Linked DNA regions of Homo sapiens. The protein of the gene in region 1 purifies or fractionates together with the protein of each later gene. This does not show direct contact. Each region holds a gene or a part of one and is shown in the gene's direction. Other genes may lie near its edges.

What was found.
Region 2: the proteins of LBR (region 1) and C1QBP purify together in Homo sapiens (co-immunoprecipitation; 2 studies listed by BioGRID and IntAct, with this or other methods). This does not show direct contact.
Region 3: the proteins of LBR (region 1) and MAD2L1BP purify together in Homo sapiens (co-immunoprecipitation; 4 studies listed by BioGRID and IntAct, with this or other methods). This does not show direct contact.
Region 4: the proteins of LBR (region 1) and LUC7L purify together in Homo sapiens (affinity purification with mass spectrometry; 3 studies listed by BioGRID and IntAct, with this or other methods). This does not show direct contact.

Annotation. Positions count from the first base shown.
Region 1 is NC_000001.11:225,425,039-225,432,690, reverse strand, and holds the start of LBR (delta(14)-sterol reductase LBR), read left to right. Parts: upstream 1-4,652; 5' UTR 4,653-4,737; intron 4,738-4,798; exon of another isoform or gene 4,799-5,360; intron 5,361-7,652. UniProt on the Homo sapiens protein: Catalyzes the reduction of the C14-unsaturated bond of lanosterol, as part of the metabolic pathway leading to cholesterol biosynthesis.
Region 2 is NC_000017.11:5,432,240-5,436,164, reverse strand, and holds the end of C1QBP (complement component 1 Q subcomponent-binding protein, mitochondrial precursor), read left to right. Parts: intron 1-1,198; coding exon 1,199-1,292; intron 1,293-2,397; coding exon 2,398-2,496; intron 2,497-2,749; coding exon 2,750-2,872; intron 2,873-3,000; coding exon 3,001-3,150; 3' UTR 3,151-3,388; downstream 3,389-3,925.
Region 3 is NC_000006.12:43,638,804-43,641,451, forward strand, and holds the end of MAD2L1BP (MAD2L1-binding protein), read left to right. Parts: intron 1-1,217; coding exon 1,218-1,730; 3' UTR 1,731-2,138; downstream 2,139-2,648. UniProt on the Homo sapiens protein: May function to silence the spindle checkpoint and allow mitosis to proceed through anaphase by binding MAD2L1 after it has become dissociated from the MAD2L1-CDC20 complex.
Region 4 is NC_000016.10:198,424-205,469, reverse strand, and holds part of LUC7L (putative RNA-binding protein Luc7-like 1), read left to right. Parts: intron 1-6,231; coding exon 6,232-6,408; intron 6,409-7,046. UniProt on the Homo sapiens protein: May bind to RNA via its Arg/Ser-rich domain.

The DNA of each region.
Region 1 (7,652 bases):
GACCCTCACGGTGAGTGTTACAGTTCTTAAAGGTGGCGTGTCCAGAATTTGTTCCTTCGGATGTTCAGATGTGTTCAGACTTTTCTTCCTTCTGGTGGGTTTGTGGTCTCACTGGCTCAGGAGTGAAGCTGCAGACCTTCACAGTGAGTGTCACAACTCATAAACGCAATGCAGATGCAGAGTGAGCAGCAGCAAGACTTACTGCAAACAGCAAAAGAACAAAGTTTCCACAAAGTGGAAAGACACCTGAGCATCTTGCCACTGCTGGCTTGGGCAGCCTGCTTTTATTCCCTTATCTGGCCCCACCCACATCCTGCTGATTGGTCCATTTTACAGAGAGCTGATTGGTCTGTTTTGACAGGGTGCTGATTGGTATGTTTACAATCCCTGAGCTAGACACAAAAGTTCTCAAAGTCCCCACTAGATTAACTAGACACAGAGCACTGATTGGTGCATTCACAAACCCTGAGCTAGACACAGGGTGCTGATTGGTGCATTTACAAACCTTGAGCTGGACACAGAGTGCTGATTGGTGTATTTACAATCCCTTAGCTAGACATAAAGGTTCTCCAAGTCCCTGCTAGATTAGCTAGACACAGAGCACTGATTGGTGCACTTACAAACCTTGAGCTAGACACAGGGGGCTGATTGGTGTGTTCACAAACCCTGAGCAAGACACAGAGTGCTGACTGGTGTATTTACAATCCCTTAGCTAGACATAAAGTTTCTCCAAGTCCCCACCAGATTAGCTAGATACACAGTGCTGATTGGTGCATTTACAAACCTTGAGCTAGACACAGAGTGCTGATTGGTGTATTTACAATCCCTTAGCTAGACATAAAGGTTCTCCAAGTCCCCGCTAGACCCAGGAGCCCAGCTGGCTTCACCTAGTGGATCCTGCATCAGGGAGCCCGCCAGTCCCACGACCTGTGCCCACACTACTCCTCAGCCCTTGGGCGGTCGGAATGGGACCGGGCGCGTGGAGCAGGGGGCAGCGCTCATCTGGGAGGCTCAGGCCGCTCAGGAGCCCATGGTGTGGGGGAGGCTCAGGCATGGCAGGCTGCAGGTCCCCAGCCTTTCCCTGCGGGGAGGCAGCTGAGGTCCAGCGAGAATTCCAGCACAGCGCTGGTGGGCCAGGCCGGCACTGCTGGGAGACCCAGCGCATCCTCCGCAGCTGCTGGCCTGGGTACTAAGCCCCTCACTGCCTGGGGCCTGCGGAACCGGCCAGCCGCTCCGAGTGCGGGGCCTGCCGAGCCCACGCCCACCTGGAACTTGCACTGGCCTGCAAGCCCAGTGCTCAGCCCTGGTTCCCACCCACGCCTGTCCCTCCACACCTCCCCGCAAGGTGAGGGAGCCCGCTCCGGCCTCGGCCAGCCCAGAGAGGGGCTCCCACAGTGCAGTGGCAGGCTGAAGGGCTCCTCAAGAGCGGCCAGAGTGGGCGCCGAGGCCGAGGAGGTGCAGAGAGTGAGCGAGGGCTGCTAGGGCTGCCAGCACGCTGTCACCTCTCACCAGCACTTTGGGAGGCCGAGGTGGGTAGATCACTTGCAGTCAGGAGTTGGAGACTAGCCTGGCCAACACGGCCAAACCCCATCTCTTCTAAAAATACAAAAATTAGCTGGGCATGGTGGCGTGCACCTGTAATCCCAGCTACTCGGGGCTGAGGTGAGAAGATTGCTTGAACCCAGGAGGCACAGGCAGTAGTGACCCAAGATCGTGTCATTGCGCTCCAGCCTGGGTGACAGAGGGAGACACCATCTCAAAAAAAAAAAAAAAAAAAAAAAAGAGGATAAGTGCTGCAAACATACATATAGTATGTAGAAGAAGTTTCAAATAATTTTTAAATTGCTATTGAGATGGACATAATGCATCATGTTAATTGTGAGCTCCATTTCTGTGTGAATAGAAACCATATCAAACATCATCAGTAGAAATGTGTTTTTATCGGACAGCTTTTGAGGTACCTCTACCTTATGAATAAAGGCTTTCTGCAGTTTGCAGCATACAGAAGTTTGTTCCTTATGTAACAGTACCAAAAGAATCCAACTGGATCTCACGCCACGTGAAACTTTACCTACACGTCTTTCCTGAAAGAGATGTTTCAATCCTGGGAACCGAGATCCTCTGGAGACCAGAGCCAAATAACTGCCACATTGGAATGCATTCCGCTGGGGGTTCCTGTATTTTATATATGAAAGCTTCCTGGCCGCATGTGTGTTTTGGTTGGCTTTAGTGGCAGGACTGAAGGGTTTTGCTTTGCTTTTGTTATGTGAATGGGGAAAGGGGCTTTGCCACTCATGGCCTCATTAACAACAATGGTGCCAAGATGCGGACTTTTAAGTGACTTTTACTTTATAGATTCTGAAAACCCACAACTTGCTAGTTGTGAGTGACAAGCATCTTTCTGAGAACTTTCTGAAAATTCCCCACTTCCAAGTTTACACAGCCTTTAGTAGACTTAAAAAAGAAGAGAAAAATACCAAACAGTTCCTTTGTTGAGAAAGCAGCCTACATATAGATCTGATTGTTCATGGTATGTTTGAGTCCACGAAGTAGAAATGAACAAAAATTATTGCTTAGTTTTCCTGATGTCAAATCAGTTTTGTTTTAAAAATGTCATTAGTAATTTATTAGGTAAAATGTTAGCTAAGCTAACTCTAGTTAATTTACAAAGTTTTGGCTTCATTTTGTTATGATGAGACTTTATAAACCTGATCTTTAAAATAAGGTTCTTAAAATTTTTAAAAATTTATTTTATTTATTTTTTGAGACAGAGTTTCGCTCTTCTTGCCCAGGCTGAGTGGCAGTGGCATGATCTCAGCTCATTGCAACCTTCACCTCCCAGGTTCAAGCGATTCTTCTGCTTCAGCCTCCCGAGTAGCTGGGACTACAGGTGCTCGCCACCGTGCCCAGCTAATTTTTGTATTTTTTTAGTAGAGATGGGGTTTCACCATGTTGGCCAAGTTGGTCTCGAACTCCTGCTCAGGTGATCCAACCGCCTCGGCTTCCCAAAGTGCTGGGATTATAGGCGTGAGCCACGGCGCCTGGCCAGGTGTTTTTTTTTTTTTTTTTGAAACGAATCTTCTTCTATTTCACAAGTGGAAATCATCCAGGAAATGTGCACCTCAAGGGAAATCCAGTGAAATCTTGATTCTGGGTAGAACATATGAGAAAAGAATAGTGTAGCACTCACTGCTTGGCTATTTGGGATAGGATCTGTCTTAGGTCCCCATAAGCGCTTTTATTTCTGTGTAATTTACTGCAAAACTCTATGAGGTAGGACTAATATTATCTTATGTCAAGGGTTAAGACAATTGAGACTTGGGGGTTTGTCAAAAATAAAAGATTTTCTGACTTTGGAGTGCGATGTGCATTTCTGTTGCACAGATCTCCACCAAGGGCAAATTCGATGGCAATGACAATTTGATGTCAGAACTTCTCAGGAAAGGCTCTGATGAACTCATTCACACTGCATGTGAATGACTGAGAAAACTCGATGTATTTTCACTTTTTTTTTTTTAAGAAGTAAACCTGGGTGTTTTGTAGTTCTATGAGAAAATGAAAGCTGAAGCTAGGCTATAGATGAAAAGTTCTATTCATTATTACAATTTAATAATGCTTCCAAAATAGCAATTCACTTAAATATACCTAGTTAGGGTGTTAAGAAATACTTTGATTAAAACCACACTGCAAAATAGGGAACTTCAATGGACTGCTTTAAACTCTCGACCTCAAAGGAAGGAAATCAACTAACCGATAATGAAAACTAGCAGAAAAAAAAAAGCTTAGGATCCGTAACAGATTCGGAGTCAACAATGACATGACTCAGCATTTTGGGGTTCAATTAAAACCAGGCTTGTAGGTTGCAGGTCAAGTTGTGTTTCGGTGTGTAACGCATAAAACTTCTTGTTCCACGCTCCGCGGTGTTGGGGATTTTCTACTGCATCTCGACAGCATCTCGGGTAACAACCGAGCCCCTCCTCGCAGCGTAAGTCGTAGGAGCCCTCGGCCATTCTTCCCCCTCCCTCCCGCCGCCGGTCCCAGCATCGGTCCGGGTTCGCTTCTACGCAGGTTCAGCGGCCGCGGACACAAAAGCGCCCCTGCTCGCCTTCGATGCCGCTGCTTGGTCCAGGGGCTTCTGTGGGATTTTAACACGCTAAGGAGGGCACTCATAGTGTTTTACCGAGAAACGCTTTCGAGCTCGGATCTTTGGTGATCACTTCAAGAATGTATTAGTTTTCTTTGTAGCTTAAAAAAAAATCTCGTTCGCCAAGCCACCTGGCACCCCAAACACTGCTGCGAGCGCTGGGAGGGAAAGGGCGGGAGCGCGCGGGCTCCGTGTGCTGCGAGGGCGCCTGGGCGGCTGAGATAAGGCGGTGGCAAACGTCGCGCTCCGGGCCGCCCCGCCAGACTCGGTTTCCCCCGCTCACCGGCCTCCCCGCCCCCAGGCAGGGTGGGGCGGGGCGGACGCGCCACGGCGCGCGACCAATCGACAGCGCCGGGGATGATTCAAAAGGTCGAGGAGCCAATGGGAGCCCCGGGCGGCCTCGCCGGTGGGGAGGGGAGGCGAGGGGAGGGGAGAAGCGCCGCGAGGCGGGGCCGGGGAGGCGCGCGCCCGGCTTGCGGGACTGCGGGGCGCGAGAGCGCGGCCGGGTAGCGTCGCGCGCGTGGATCTGCCGCCGGGTTGCTGTGCGACTATTCTCCGGGAGCCGTCCGTGTCACCGCCGGAACCTGGCGCAGGTGAGTGCTTCCACCCCCGCCCTGCTCCCAGCTCCCCGCGGCGCGTTCTTCGAGGGGCCGCTGGGGGAGGAAGCCCGAGGCCGGCGCAGCGGCCGGGCCGGGGACCCTGGGCGCGGGGCCTGGCGCGGCGGCCTTCCCCTCCTCTCCTCGCCTCCTCGTCTCCTCCCCTCCTCGCCTTTTCTGGCCCAGTCGGGTGGTCGGGGCGGCGGCGGGCGAGGCTGGAGCTCGCCCGAGCCGGGCCCGCTGCGGAAATGGAGCTGGGGGTTTTAAACTGCGGACGTTTCCCTCCATGTTGGCGGCGCGGCGCGGCTGTGGAGCGGCGGCGGCAGGGAGGGTTCGTGGGCGCCTTTGTCCTGCCCCACCGCAGCCTGGCTCCCGGCCCCTCCGAGCGCCCGTCTGACAGATGAGCAGGCGGCCCCGCGGTCCTGCAGTAGGAGGCTGACAGGGCGCGGCGGCCTGGCGGGACGGGGAAGGGTCTGCGGCCGAGGTGGGCTTAGATTCGCGCTGCTTGTCACTGGCTTTGAGGGTCGTGGTCGTCGCGGTTTGGTGATTCTCCAGGCACACTGCATGGCTGCTCGCTCCTATGCGTTGAATTCCTTCGCCCGGACAGTCTCAAAAATCGGGTATTTAGGCGGGTGTGCGTGTTCCTGCTAAAGCACGGTCCTGCTTTTTCACCTTTTTGAGGGTTCAGAAAAATGTTCTAATGACAGCCAGCCTCGCACTGCCAGTAGCCTCAAGGGGCACTTAGTAAAGCACTTGCTTTCGGAGGGCTTTGTTGAAGGCGCTTTCCCAGAGTGATTACGGGGCCCGGTCGGGTGTTCACACGAGGGCGCGGTAGATACCGTGGTCCGCGCGTGGACACCTGCAGCGCGAGGCGCGGCGCCTGGGCAGTGCCAGGGTGAACAGGCCCCCGGGGACCTTGCACGTAAACACGTGTAGATCTGTAGTTACGCATTGTAGTAACTGGTGTGTGGGAGAAGATGGAGCTACGGAGAAGAGCAGAGGGATCCTAATTTAGATTAGGCAACAAGTCCAGTTTAAGTTTTGTTTCTCAGGCTGCCTGGGAAGAGGGAGAAGAACGAGCAGGAGGGGAATGATGAGCTGCCCAAGGATGTTTATGGGGAAGAAGGCGCTTCTGCCTTTACAGCCAGGAAGGTGGCCTTTCTGTTGCTTCATGAAGCAAAGGGCGCGGAGCAAGGCCCGGGGTTCCTGTTTGCATTTTGCCTAGTGGGGCTACCGGGGCTCAGGTGTGAAAAGGAAGCTGTCCAACGTCATTCGAGCGTCTTGCTCTATGCCACGTTTAGATGAATTTGGAGAAGTGAAGGAAAGATGGCTGGAGACCCCTGTAATGTTAATGAGCAGAGAATTGTTGTGTTCACAAACAGTAACATACCGGAGCTGGAATGTGTGAGGATTGCAGTGCCAGTTGACTCTGAAGTTAGCGGGCATCTGGCTTAATAGAGAAAAACCTGAGGGTCTCCGTGTTTTTCCTGTTTATGGCGAATGAGGACATTGGGTGCAGTGAACAAAATTTTTCTTTACAAACACACTTGCCTAAAACATCTCTTGTAAGAAAATCCTGTGTGTATCTTGACTCCTGTAGGTGAGTGCATAGTGAGTGACACGAACAAATGTGGGGCTTTTGTGTGCCATCCTGGCTATTTCACTCCTGTGGGGGAATATATTAGGATGTGATTGCACTGTATCCTCACGTTTGACAATTGTGTGTGGATCTTGTGTAAAGTGGGGGTGCACATCATGTTGTTGGCTTCATCTTTTGGAACATTTGTGTATAAGATAATGGTCTTCTAAGAAGAATGCCGGTTCATTTTGTTTGTTTTTCAAGCAAATCTTAATTCTTCTTTTAAAAAGTAAGCTTTAGAGACCTAACAGGTATCCACCATATGTGTTAACTTGTTTAACCCAGAATAATTGATAAGAATCTTTTTGGCACTGGCCTGCGTTTATATTACACAGATACTGTGTATGTGGTGTGTAAGTGCAATGGAAAGATGCCAGTAAATAAGTTTTTAAGAACACGCAGAAACTGTTCAAGGGTCTTTTAAAACCTCAAGTAGCCCCTGCGTCCTGAAGGGCTTGTGTTTCAAAAGTTTATAAAGAGTTTTTTGCAACTTGAGCATCTTCCTGTAGGAAGACATAATTGCCTTCTTTTAACTCTGGCTGACCAGTGTAGGAGAGCTAGTACTAGTAAGAGTGGTTTGATTTTGGGGGGCCTAGGGAGGAGGAGGGGGCTCAAGAGAAGAGAGAAGGAGGGTACATTTCCTTCCTCTTTCTTTGTACTTGGAGGCTCTGAGCTAAATGTTGAAATAGGCAAAGCTGGATGTTGTCACCTTCCGTTTTTATGCCCCTGCTCATGCAGAGGTGTTCACTGCCCCCCTGCTCCCTAAGTGCCCCTCGGGTGACTCAGCCAGGCCTGACTTCATCCCGAAAACTTGTGGGCTCCTCCCCACTACTCCAAGCCCAAACCCATTCATTACCCCAGTGATGCCCAATCTCAGGTAGGTGTAGGGAAGAAAGCTGCCTCTCTTACCTAATGTGTTAATTGACTGACATCCTCTAATCACCAGATAAGTACTTGTGTTTTCTTTCATCTACCAACCTAGCTGCCATCTCTGTAAACTAGTAGAGCTTGTTAAGTTTTTTCACAGACGATTAACAGTGAAAAAATGTGGTGGTTAAGAAAGGCCTCCCTCACCCCGCCTCCCCCCCCACTCTCCCACTACTCCCTTGGGGTAGGTAATTCAACTTTCTCCTTAATTCCAGAGTCTTCAAAGGTTCCTAAATGTTGCTTTTATTGTATCATCAGCTCTTAACAGGAGCCAGTGAGGAATGTACATTGATAGGCTTGGACAATACATCAAGAAGTGCTTAGTTGGTGAAATGAAGGTGATTTG
Region 2 (3,925 bases), on another chromosome or scaffold:
CAGATTTTGTCAACCTCAGACTGCCTCTGTTGCCATGGAAAGGTGGCTTCCTGGCAGAGCAGCTAGTTAGCACAAGTGGAGGGCGGCACTTCATGTACTCTTTTTTTTTTTTTTTTTTTTCTGACAGAGTCTTGCTGTGTCTCCAGGCTGGAGAGCAGTGGCGTGATCTCGGCTCACTGCAACCTCCACCTCCCAGGTTCAAGCAATTCTCCTGCCTCAGCCTCCTGAGTAGCTGGGATTACAGGCGCGTACCACCACGCCCAGCTAATTTTTTTTTTTTTTTTTTTTTTGTATTTTTTAGTAGAGATGGAGTTTCATCGTGTTGGCCAGGATGGTCTCGATCTCTTGACCTCGTGATCTGCCCACCTCGGCCTCCCAAAGTGCTGGGATTACAGGCGTGAGCCACTGCGCCCAGCCTTCATGTACTCTTGTGTGGAATGGTGCCTGCCAGAGTTGCATAGCCCAGCAGTTTTGGTTCTAAACCTTATGTCCCAAGAATTTTGACTCAAACTTTGGAACATGATTTGTCAGGTGTGGATTCTTGCACCTTAAAATTGTCACTAGTTGGTGTGTCTGGCCTGCTTTGTGATTATGAAACTTCCCACAAGTACTCTAAGGGATGAGTCTCTACTACAGCCCTTGTTCTTTGTGAGGCATTCCCTTCCCCGTTCCAGGGCTGCTCTCGGTGTTTAGCAGAGGCACCCTCCATCGCTTCTTCCTTTCCTTGCAGGGCAAATTTTCTGACGGGGAAAGTCTCTTAAAGGGGCTTCTGTTCCATCTCACCAGCCTCTCAGGTCCTTACTTTGACCAAGGGTTCCCTGGAAAGACCAGGGTGGGCAGTGTCAGCTGGCTGTGGCCATGAGATGCCCAGTCAGCACATGGCAGTGAGCCCTGGGGTACTGGCCCTGTTGGGAGTAACCCATGCATGACTTGTTTGGCTGAGATAAACTGAGGCCAGCTTTGGCTTCCAGCAGCTGGTACATGGTAGGCACACTTCAGACCTGCTGAGTCACTCAGGATTGGATGTAGGCACCCAGCCTAGTTTGAAGTTCTGCATATAATTCAGCCAGCTAGGACAGAGACATTGTTTCAATACGCCTTTTTAACTGTAGCAGATTTCCATGTTTATGTGTTAACCTGCTCGGTTAAAACCATGCCTTGTCTGTTTTGCCTTGTCTGTTTTCCCTTGCCGTTTTAGAATCACGGTCACTTTCAACATTAACAACAGCATCCCACCAACATTTGATGGTGAGGAGGAACCCTCGCAAGGGCAGAAGGTTGAAGAACAGGAGGTAAGCTAATACTATAATCAGCTTTTACCTCAGTTCTGACAGGCTGTGCCTGGGGCTTAGAGGAGGAGCGTTTTTCTTTGGTCTTTCAAAAAAAAAAAATTCCTCTAAGTCCAGTCGCATGGCTCACGCCTATAATCCCAGCACTTTGGGAGGCCGAGACGGGCAGATCACGAGGTCAAGAGATCGAGACCATCCTGGCCAACATGGTGAAACCCCGTCTCTACTAAAAATACAAAAATTAGCTGGGCATGGTGGCAGGTCCCTGTAATCCCAGCTACTCGGGAGGCTGAGGCAGGAGAATCGCTTGAACCCGGGAGGCAGAGGTTGCGGTGAGCCAAGATCACACCACTGCACTCCAGCCTGGCGACAGAGCAAGACTCTGTCTCAAAAAAAAAAAAAAAAAAAAAAGAGAGAGAGAATGGCAGGGGCATAAGAGACTTTAACTGGATCATGCCTACTCTTCAAACATTTCAGGAAGTGCTGTGCCCAGCCTAGTAACCAGCCAGTATGAGGGCCACAGAGTCCCTAGACATTCTGCCCAAGAGCCATCAGTACAGTGTTGGGTCATGACCTGGTGTGGACGGCGCAGCTCTCTGGTGTGCTGCTTTCCCAGCCACCCCAACTAGCATCTCCCTGACGTTGGACCCAGTCTGCTCCCAGAGCTCCGCATCAGAGGAAAAGCTGCTGCTGTTATTCAGCCATAAGGATGGCCAGGTTCCCCAGCCTTTGACCCTGGTCCCTTATGAAGACTCCTGGAACAGTCAAGCTGGAAAGAGATCTTGAAACTTTAGGAAAGCTTTGCAGTGTACGGGTGGAGGAAAAGGCTTGGAATGTTAAGGGACTGATATAAACTCAGTTAATTGGCACATAGCTGAGGCTGGTATCCACATTTCTTAACTGAAAACCCAGTGTGTTATTTAACCAAGCAGGGTGCCAACAGAAGTGAGATCAAGCTCTTCATTTGGGAATAGTATGGCATAAGACTATTCAAATGGCTACATAATATCCTAATAGTGGTGGCCATCAGACACTCTGAACAGAGATCCTTGATCCAGCCATCCATCTCCTTCCAGCAGCAGCATGTATTGACTTCTTGTTTCCCCAGCCTGAACTGACATCAACTCCCAATTTCGTGGTTGAAGTTATAAAGAATGATGATGGCAAGAAGGCCCTTGTGTTGGACTGTCATTATCCAGAGGATGAGGTATGCAGGATGGAGTGCTAGCCTCTTGGCACCCCTGGGGAACAGTGTGTCCCTTGGGAACTTCCTGTCCCTATTTTAGCAGAAATTTAAACACTTTTCTAGCTTAGACCAGCCCAGCAGGGGGAGAGAGGTGGGGAGTGAGGGAAGAGGGTTAAAACCTGATGAGTTTCATGCTGTCAGTGGCCCCCTTTCTTCCCCTGAGTCTAGCTTGTCCTGGAGAACCCTTCAGTTTCCCAATATTGTTTCTTCTCAGGTTGGACAAGAAGACGAGGCTGAGAGTGACATCTTCTCTATCAGGGAAGTTAGCTTTCAGTCCACTGGCGAGTCTGAATGGAAGGATACTAATTATACACTCAACACAGATTCCTTGGACTGGGTGAGTGCTTGATAAGGTGGGGGAACCTTTTGGGCCTTGGAAGGAAGGGTCCTAGTTCAAGGGGAGAAAAAAGCATTTTAATGTTCATTACAGATTTTTTTTTAACTAGTAAATATTGTTCTTTGCAGGCCTTATATGACCACCTAATGGATTTCCTTGCCGACCGAGGGGTGGACAACACTTTTGCAGATGAGCTGGTGGAGCTCAGCACAGCCCTGGAGCACCAGGAGTACATTACTTTTCTTGAAGACCTCAAGAGTTTTGTCAAGAGCCAGTAGAGCAGACAGATGCTGAAAGCCATAGTTTCATGGCAGGCTTTGGCCAGTGAACAAATCCTACTCTGAAGCTAGACATGTGCTTTGAAATGATTATCATCCTAATATCATGGGGGAAAAAATACCAAATTTAAATTATATGTTTTGTGTTCTCATTTATTATCATTTTTTTCTGTACAAATCTATTATTTCTAGATTTTTGTATAACATGATAGACATAAAATTGGTTTATCTCCTCCAAGGCAGTTTGTCTTTTTCTATTCCTCCCCCTTCAACCTGCGTCACAAAAGACCAAGAACAGATGTCGGAAAAGTTTTTTTTTCTTCAGTATTGTTTAAAAGTTTCAATACAAAATAAGTTATAAATAAAAGGCTTGTATGTACAAGGCTCCTCAGAGGGAATGAGTTGTCTTCAACCCCATAGAATGATGTGAGTCCAAGCTGGCTCTAGAGGATCACAGCCCAAGTATCACAGGCCTAGGTTTAAACAGGAAAATAATTAGCTTAAATTGTATTCTAGTCATGAAAGATATCTGATAAAAGTTGTAATCAATGAGAATTCTACACATTAGATGAGGTCTCCTGAGTCCAGTTTCAATTAGTTCAGTAGTGTAGTTTGTCATGATGACCGCCCCTCTTTGGCATTGCTGGACCTCTGTCCTGCAGCCTTCAAACAACTGCCCTGGGAACCATCAGCATCAATAGTCTTCAAGCTAAGATCAAATCCTGTAGATGAACTAATCAAACATCCTCACCATCAGGAAACCACTGACCAGAAA
Region 3 (2,648 bases), on another chromosome or scaffold:
AAAAAAGAATAAATCATTGCAAGCTGTGTGTGCATGCCTGGGCCTTATGAGCTGATAGACTTCACTATAAGGAGATTAGGTGGGAACCTGGTGATCTCTTTGTGGGGATTGGAAAGTCTTCCCTCTGGATGGGGGAGAAATTTGGCAGATGATCTAAGCATCTTCACACAGATTTTCATTCATTTCCCCTATATTCACTCTTGCCTCTGTGGTGCCTGTATCACCACTTCCTAAACCTTTCTGGGGTTCTGCTGTGTGGATCAGTTTGCATCCCTTGGGGGTCCCTTCTGTCAGCACTTGGTATTCAGCTCTCTTGAACTCTTAACTCTTCATCTTCTTTCTTTTTTTTTTTTTGAGACAGAGTCTCGCTCTGTCACCCAGGCTAGAGTGCAGTGGCGTGATCTCAGCTCACTGCAAGCTCTGCCTCCTGGGTTCAGGCTATTCTCCTGCCTCAGCCTCCCTAGTAGCTGGGACTACAGGCATCCACCACCACACTCGGCTAATTTTTTGTATTTTTAGTAGAGACAGGGTTTCGCCATGTTAGCCAGGATGGTCTTGATCTCCTGACCTTGTGATCCGCCCGCCTCGGCCTCTCAAAGTGCTGGGATTACAGGCGTAAGCCACTGCGCCCAGCCAACTCTTCATCTTCTATCTTCCAAAACTTCTGTGTTTGCATTTGGCTAGTGTTGTGTAGTTTCCAGTTCTTTCCTCTTGGGAGTTTTCTTTGTCAGTCTTTCCTCTTCTTTCCTTCATTTGTTTCTTAATTTCTTTTCTCTCATTTTGTAATATTTCAGGTGGAAGTGCAAATAAGCATGTGTTCAGTTTACTATGTTTAAGTGGAAGAACAAGTTCAAAGTCATGTTTATTAGACCAAATAATCCTCATTCCTGTTATCACTCCCCATACAGCAAAAATTTGTTGTCACTTTGTCATGTCACCAAATTTCTATTTTAGTTGCTTATATCTGGATATCCTCCACCTTCAGAACACTGTGTTTGCTGTTCTAAATGTGGGAGAATTATGGTTTTGTACAAATAATATATTTTCCTTTTCAGTATAATACCCTCTGATAAAACACAGTGTTTTGGCTGTGGCGGTTCATTGAGCTAGAAATTAAGTCCTGTAAGTCTATGTACACATCCCAGCAGGGTTCTTTTCAAAGAGCATTAGCTTCCCCCTGCCTTGTTCTTCTCTCCCACCATTCTTTGTCCTCACAGGCAGAGGAGATGCTGAAGAAGAAACCTCGGGCCACCACTGAGGTGAGCAGCAGGAAATGCCAACAAGCCCTGGCAGAACTGGAGAGTGTCCTCAGCCACCTGGAGGACTTCTTTGCACGGACACTAGTACCGCGAGTGCTGATTCTCCTTGGGGGCAATGCCCTAAGCCCCAAGGAGTTCTATGAACTCGACTTGTCTCTGCTGGCCCCCTACAGCGTGGACCAGAGCCTGAGCACAGCAGCTTGTTTGCGCCGTCTCTTCCGAGCCATATTCATGGCTGATGCCTTTAGCGAGCTTCAGGCTCCTCCACTCATGGGCACCGTCGTCATGGCACAGGGACACCGCAACTGTGGAGAAGATTGGTTTCGACCCAAGCTCAACTATCGAGTGCCCAGCCGGGGCCATAAACTGACTGTGACCCTGTCATGTGGCAGACCTTCCATCCGAACCACGGCTTGGGAAGACTACATTTGGTTCCAGGCACCAGTGACATTTAAAGGCTTCCGCGAGTGAATGAGTGCTTCTTAATCCTAAAAACACAATGGCTGAATTATCTTTCTCCATGTGGCGCTGAATCACCCATCTGGTTTGGAGCTAGAGTTGCTTCCTGGTGAGAGAGGAAGCAACTCTCCTTCTGGTTGTCTGCCTCCCCTCAGATTTCCTGATAGGCTGATGGCATGTGGCTGTGACTGTGACTGTAATCATTGCTGAACAACATCTCTTTGAATCAAAGGTTGATTTTCCCAGAGGGTGCTGGGTCAGGCATTTCTATTAGGAGTTGGAAAGCAAAAATGGGTCCATAGACACTCTATGGAGGTGTCCCTTTCTGCTCTTTGCTGTGTCCTTTCAGAATTTTTACCAGGAACATAATGTGGATGTGACTTATGAACTTAAATATAAAATAAATAGATTCTTATTATATTTTCCTGAAATTGTTTTGACTTAACTTGTCAGGTTTTAGGCTATTTTGTCTTTCTCCTTGGCCTCTTCTGCTTCAGGGCTTCTCGAATTTTTTTTTTTTTTCTTTTTTCTTTTTTGAGATGGAGTCTCGCTGTATCGCCCAGGCTGGAGTACAGTGGCACAATCTTGGTCGCTGCAACCTCCACCTCCCAGGTTCAAGGAATTCTCCTGTCTTAGCCTCTCGAGTAGCTGAGATTGCAGGTGTGCACCACCACGCCCAGCTAATTTTTGTATTTTTAGTAGAGATGGAGTTTCACCATGTTGGCCAGGCTGGTCTCGAACTCCTGCCCTCAAGTGATCCACCTGTCTTGGCCTCCCAAAGTGCTGGGATTACAGGTGTGGGCCACCGTGCCTGGCCTTAGGATTTTTTTACTAATGATTTTTTCTCTTGTTCAGCCCCAGGCTAGTCTAGGAAATTAAGTGACTTGGCCAAGTGCATATGTAGTTTGATAGCAGAGTTAGGACTAGAGT
Region 4 (7,046 bases), on another chromosome or scaffold:
TACGTTGACTTGTCATTATCACCCAAAGTCTGCAGAAAATGTTAGGTATGTCATGAATACATAAAATATATGAGGATACTAGTCTTTTATTTACTGCCATAAAATATACACAAGTCTATTATGAAAAGGTAACATTTGTCAAAACTTAAGCATATGGCCAGCTATGGTGGCTCTTGGCTTTAGTCTCAGCTGTTCGGGAGGCTGAGATGAGAGGATCCCTTAATCCTAGGACTTTTGGAGTCCAGCCTGGATAACATAGCAAGACCCTGTCTCTAAAAAAGAAGAGGCTACATGCAAACGCTTACAGACCATACATGACAGCATTCGCCGTAGAGAGATGTTAACAAACGTAGTGCAGAGGTGCAGTATTAAATCAGGGCTGCCTAAGAATAACTGTAATAGGTACTGTACTACTGTAATAATTCATGCCACTTCCTGTTGCCATTGTGTGGAGCTCAAGGGTCGTGAGTATCCCCTTGAAACACCACGTGACACTCATCATCTCCGAAGGAGCAGTTCACCTCTCCAGTACATTCCTACTGCAGTAAAAAGTGAACTCACAGGGTTCCTAGGCGTTTTTCATCGTGTTTAGTGCAATACCATAAACTTTGAGTAATGCCATAGGATCCATATGCCACTAGTGATGCTGAAAATGCTCCCAAGAAGGCAAGAACAGCCATGATATTACAAGAAAAAGTTGAGTTGCTTGATGTATACATTAGATTGAGGTCTGCAGCTGCAGTTGCTACCATTTCAGACGGACAATTCATCTTGTAAATGAGCAGTGTAAACGTACAGAAGTGATCAGTACAGCACAGTACTATAAATGTATTTTATTTTCTCTTCCTTATAATTTTCTCTCTTTTTTTTTTTTTTGAGATGGAGTCTCGCTCTGTCCCCCAGGCTGGAGTGCAGTGGTGCGATCTCAGTTCACTGCAAGCTCCGCTTCCTCGGTTCACACCATTCTCCTGCCTCAGCCTCCAGAGTAGCTGAGACTACAGGCGCCCACCACCACGCCCGGCTAATTTTTTTGTACTTTCAGTAGAGATGGGGTTTCACTGTGTTAGCCAGGATGGTCTCAATCTGACCTCGTGGTCCACCCGCCTCGGTCTCCCAAACTGCTGGGATTACAGGAGTGAGCCACCATGCTCGGCCCATGGCTAATTTTTTTTTTTTTTTTTCATTTCTAGTAGGGATGGGGTTTCACCGTGTTGGCCAAGCTGGTCTCAAACTTCTGACCTCAGGTGATCCGTCTGCCTTGGCCTCCCAAAGTGCTGGGATCACAGGCGTGAGCCACTTCGCCAGGCCATTTGATACCTTTTATGAGTCTTGTAATTTTTCTCATAGTGAAGATCTCATGCATGTTTTGTTAGATTTCTACCTAAATATTTCATGCTTGCGGGTGCTGGTGTAATTGGTCATTTGTTTTTTGGTTTTTGTTTTTGTGTTTTTTTGAGATGGAGTCTCATTCATTCGCCCAGGCTGGAGTGCAGTGGCGTGATCTCGGCTCACTGCAACCTCCGCCTCCCGGGCTCAAGCGATTCTCCTGCCTCAGCCTCCCGAGTAGCTGAGACTATAGGCGTGTGCCACCATACCTGGCTAATTTTTTGTGTTTTTAGTAGAGATATGATTTAACCGTGTTAGCCAGGATGGCCTCTATCTCCTGACCTCATGATCCGCCTGCCTTGGCCTCTCAAAGTGCTGGGATTACAGGTGTGAGCCACCGCGCCCAGCCCTCCCCACCTCCACCCCGCCCCCCGCCCTGAGACGGTCTCACTTTCTCACCCAGGCTGGAGTGCAGTGGCGCGATCTTGGCTCACTGAAGGCTTGATCTCCTGGGCTCATTTGATTCTCCCGCCTCAGCCTTTCAAATAGCTAGGACTGAAGGCACATGCCACCAAGCCCAGCTAATTTTTTGTATTTTTTGGAGAGACTGGGTTTCGCCATGTTGTCAAGGCTGGTCTTGAAATCCTTGGCTCAAGCGATCTGCCTAGCTCTGCTTCCCAAAGTGCTGGGATTAGAGTCATGAGTCACCATGATGCCTGGCCTCTTGTAATACCTTTATCTGGTTTTGGTATTATGGTAATGTCCCCATAGAAGGAGTTAGAAGATACTCTCTCTGCTTCTATTTTCTGAAAGCGATTGTAGAGAATTGGCATGATTTGCTCCCTAATGCTTTGGTAGAATTCACCAGTAAACCCATCTGGACCTGATGCTTTCTGTTTTGGAAGGTTATTAATATACAGATTCATTCAGATCATCTGTTTCTTCTTGTGTGAGTTTTGGCAGATTGTGTCTTTCAACATTATTATACTTTTTTTTTACACGGAGTCTCTCTCTGTTGCCCAGGCTGGAGTGCGGTGGTGCGATGGCTCGCTGCAACCTCCAACTCCTGGGTTCAACTGATTATCCTGCCTCAGCCTCCTGAGCAGCTGAGATTACAGGTGCCTGCCACCATGCCCAGCTAATTTTTGTATTTTTAGTAGAGAAGACGGGGTTTCACCATGTCGGTCAGGCTGGTCTCAAACTCCTGACCTCAAGTGATCCACCTGCCTCAGCCTCCCACAGTGCTGGGATTACAGGCGTGAGCCACTGCTCCTGGCTGTCTTTGAAGGGATCGGTCCATTTCATCTAGTTTATCGCTTTTGTGGGCATGGAGTTGTTGTTTTTAAGAGTTGTTTGTATTATTCCTTTAAAGTGGGTGGATCCGTAATGATGTCCTGTCTTTCATTTCTGATATTAGTACAGTCATATCTTTCTTAATGACAAGGATTAAATATTCTGAGAAGTGCGTTCCATGGTTCATCATTGTGAGAACATTATAGAGTGTGCTTAACAAACCTGGGTGGTATAGCCATGTGGGCTGTATGGTAGAGCCCATTGCTCCTAGGCTCCACACCTGTACAGCATGTTACTGTGCTGAATACTATAGGCAGTTGCAACACAGTGGGCCCCTAAATATTTGTGTACGTAAACATAGAAAAGGTACAGTAAAAATACAGTATAAAAGATAAAAAATAACACTTGATACGGTTTGGATGTGTGGCACGTCCAAATCTCATGTTGAAATGTGACCTCCAATGTTGGAGGTGGGGTCTAGTGGGAGGTGTTTGGGTCATGGGGGTGGTTCACTCATCAATGGCTTGGTGCCCTCCCTGGGATAGTGAGTTCACCTCAGAGCTGATTGTTTAAAGGAGCCTAGGTCCTTCTCTCTGTCTCACTCCTTCTTTTGCCATGTGATATGCTGACTCCCCTTTTGCTGCCTTCTGCCCAGCGTAAAAGCTTATGGAGGGTGGGTATGGTGGCTCATGCCTGTAATCTCAACACTTTGGAAGGTCGAGGCAGGAGGATTGCTTGAGTCCAGGAGTTTGAGACCAGCCTGGGCAACATAGGGATACCCCATCTTTACAAAGAAATTAAAAATATGGCCGGGCACGGTTGCTCATGCCTGTAATCCCAGCACTTTGGGAGGCCAAGGTAGGTGCATCACCTGAGGTCAGGAGTTCGAGACCAGCCTGGCCAACTTGGTGAAACCCCATTTCTACTAAAAGTATAAAAATTAGCCAGGTGTGGTGGCGGGCACCTGTAATCCCAGCTACTTGGGAGGCTGAAGTAGGAGAATCGCTTGAACCCAGAAGGCGGAGGTTGCAGCGAACAGAGATCGTGCCATTGCACTCCAATATGGGTGACAGAGCAAGACTCTCTCTCAAAAAAAAAAAAAAAAAAAAAAAAGCCTGGTGCGGTGGCTCACGCCTGTAATCCCATCACTTTGGGAGGCTGAGGCGGGTGGATCACGAGGTCAGGAGATCGAGACCATCCTGGCTAACATGGTGATACTCCGTCTCTACTAAAAATACAAAAAATTGGCCGGGCGTGGCGGCGTGCGCTTGTAGTCCCAGCTACTCAGGAGGCTGAGGCAGGTGAATGGTGTGGACCCGGGAGGCAGAGCTTGTAGTGAGCTGAGATCGTGCCACTGCATTCCAGGCTGGGCGACAGAGCGAGACTCCGTCTCAAAAAAAAAAAAAAAGTTATGTAAATGGAATCATACAGTAGGTAACCTTTTGGGACTGACTTTTTTTACTCAACATAATCAGAGTTTATTTTGAAAGATGTTAGAAGGTGGCATTTAAGGTTTCAAAACTATAGAAGGGGACAGAGTAATGTTATGAATATTTGTGTACCACAATATTGTTTTTGCTTAAGTTTTTTTTTTTTTTTTTTTTTTTTAGTTATGTAGCATACTATAATGGAAATTCAAGTTCTTGCTAGTTCCTTGTCTACTTTTTTTTTTTTTTTTTTCTCAGACAGAGTCTCGCTCTGTCGCCCAGGCTGGATTGCTGTGGTGCGATCTCGGCTCACTGCATCCTCTGACTCCCGGGTTCAAGTAATTCTCAGACTCAGCCTCCCGAGTAGCTGGGATTACAGGTGCCAGCCACCGTGCCCAGCTAATTTTTTTGTATTTTTAATAGAGACGGGGTTTCACCTTCTCGGACTCCTGACCTTGTGATCCACCTGCCTTGGCCTCCCAAAGTGCTGGGATTGCAGGTGTTAGCCACTGTGCCCAGCCTATTTTTTTTAATATTAGAGGGTCCTGCTGTCAGCCAGGGTCACCCAGGCTGAAGTACAGTGGCGCAGTCACAGGTCACTGCCCCTTCAACCTCCTGGGCTCAAGCAGTCCTCTCGAATCAGTCTCTTGAGTAGGTGGGACTATAGGCACGTGCCACCACAGCGGGCTAATTATTTTCTTATTTTTAGAGACTGAGTCTTGCTGTGTTGCTCAGGGTGATCTCAATCTCCTGGGGCCAAGTGATCTTCTTGCTTCACTCTCCTAAAGTGCTGAGATTATAGGTGTGAGTCACTACACCAGGCCTGGAATACAATTTTTTTTTTTTCCTTTTTGGAGTTTTCCTCTGTCCTCCAGGTTGGAATGCAGTGGTGTGATCTCAGCTCACTGCAACCTCCACCTCCTGGGCTTAAACAATTTGTGCCTCAGCCTCTCCAGTAGCTGGAATTACAGATGCCTGCCACCATCTGGCTTTTTTTTTTTTTTTTTCTTTTGAGACGGAGTCTCGCTCTTTCGCCCAGTGGCATGATCTTGGCTCACTACAAGCTCCGCCTGCCGGGTTCACGCCATTCTCCTGCCTCAGCCTCCTGAGTAGCTGGGACTACAGGCGCCCGCCACCACGCCCAGCTAATTTTTTCTGTTTTTTTAGTAGAGACGGGGTTTCACCGTGTTAGCCAGGATGGTCGTGATCTCCTGACCCCATGATTCGCCTGCCTCAGCCTCCCAAAGTGCTGGGATTACAGGCGTGAGCCACCGCGCCCGGCCAATTTTTGTATTTTTAGTAGAGACAGGGTTTTGCTATGTTGCCAGGCTCGTCTTGAACTCCTGGCCTCAAGTGATCTGTCTGCCTTGGCCTCGGAATGCTGGGATTACAGGCGTGAGCCACTGAGCCCAGCCTGTTAGTACCTTTTTTTTTTAAGATGGAGTCTCGCTCTGTTGCCAGGCTGGAATGCAGTGGCACGGTTTTGGCTCACTGCAACCTCCGCTTCCCAGGTTCAAGTGATTCTCCTGCCTCAGCCTCCTGAGTAGCTGGGACTACAGGCATGTGCCACCACACCCAGCTGATTTTTGTATTTTTAGTAGAGACGGGGTTTCACAAAGTTGGCCAGGATGGTCTCGATCTCTCTTTTTTTTTTTTTTTTTTTTTTTGAGACAGGGTTTTGCTCTTGTTGCCTGTGCGATCTCAGCTCAACAGCAACCTCCGCCTCCCGAGTTCAAGCCATTCTCCTGCCTCAGCCTCCAGAATAGCTGGGATTACAGGCATGCGCCACCACACCCGGCTACTTTTGTATTTTTAATAGAGATGGGGTTTCTCCATGTTGGTCAGGCTGATCTTGAACTCCGGACCTCAGGTGATCCGCCAGCCTCAGCCTCCCAAAGTGCTGGGATTACAGGCGTGAGCCACCGCGCCTGGCCTGGTCTTGATCTCTTGACCACATGGTCCGCCCACCTGGCCTCACAAAGTGCTGGGACCGTGCCTGGCCGCGTTTCTTAAATAAACAGTGAAAATTGAGTTGGTTATAAATATCTGAAGTTTTGTTTGTGTTTTTTTAATATTTGTTTAAAAGTCACCTCTGTCATCTTATCAAATATTTTCATTTTGGAGATTGAATTTGTGGTGGCAGTTCTATATACCTCACTTTTATTTCTCCATTTTCCTTCTTCAGGAAGAATACAGAAATTCCATGCCTGCATCCAGTTTTCAGCAGCAAAAGCTGCGTGTCTGCGAGGTCTGTTCAGCCTACCTTGGTCTCCATGACAATGACCGTCGCCTGGCAGACCACTTCGGTGGCAAGTTACACTTGGGGTTCATTCAGATCCGAGAGAAGCTTGATCAGTTGAGGGTATGTTCATCTGTTTCTGGAGAAAGCTGAGGAGTCTTGGGGTGTTTTCACATTTCTTTAATTTTTAAAAACCTTATGTTTTGGCCGGGCGTGGTGGCTGATGCCTATAATCCCAGCACTTTGGGAGGCCGAGGTGGGCGAATCACCTGAGGTCAGGAGTTCGAGACCAGCCTGACCAACATGGTGAAACCCCGTCTCTACCGAAAAATTAGCCAGGTGTGTTGGTGTGAGCCTGTAATCTTAGGTACTCGGGAGGCTGGGGCAGAAGAATTGCTTAAACCCAGGAGGCAGAGGTTGCAGTGAGCCGAGATCATGCCATTGCATTCCAGCCTGGGCTATAGAGTAAGACTCCATCTCAAAAAAAAAACAAAAAACATTATGTTCTGATCTCTAAGAACTTGAGTTTTATAGTGAAATACGCAGATTTCATCACTTGGATTCACACAAGAGACATGATAGCTCAGAGTCCAAAGGAGCCTTGGAGATTTATTTTGGACCCTGTCGTTAAGGGAAGAAAATGGCAGAGCCTGTTCCCAGAATACATACAGCTCGTTGTGTATCTCTGAAATAACTTCTGTTAGGAGATGAGAAAGAATCTCTGGTTGGTCAAGACAGAGTGTCACACATCCTGGCTCCTT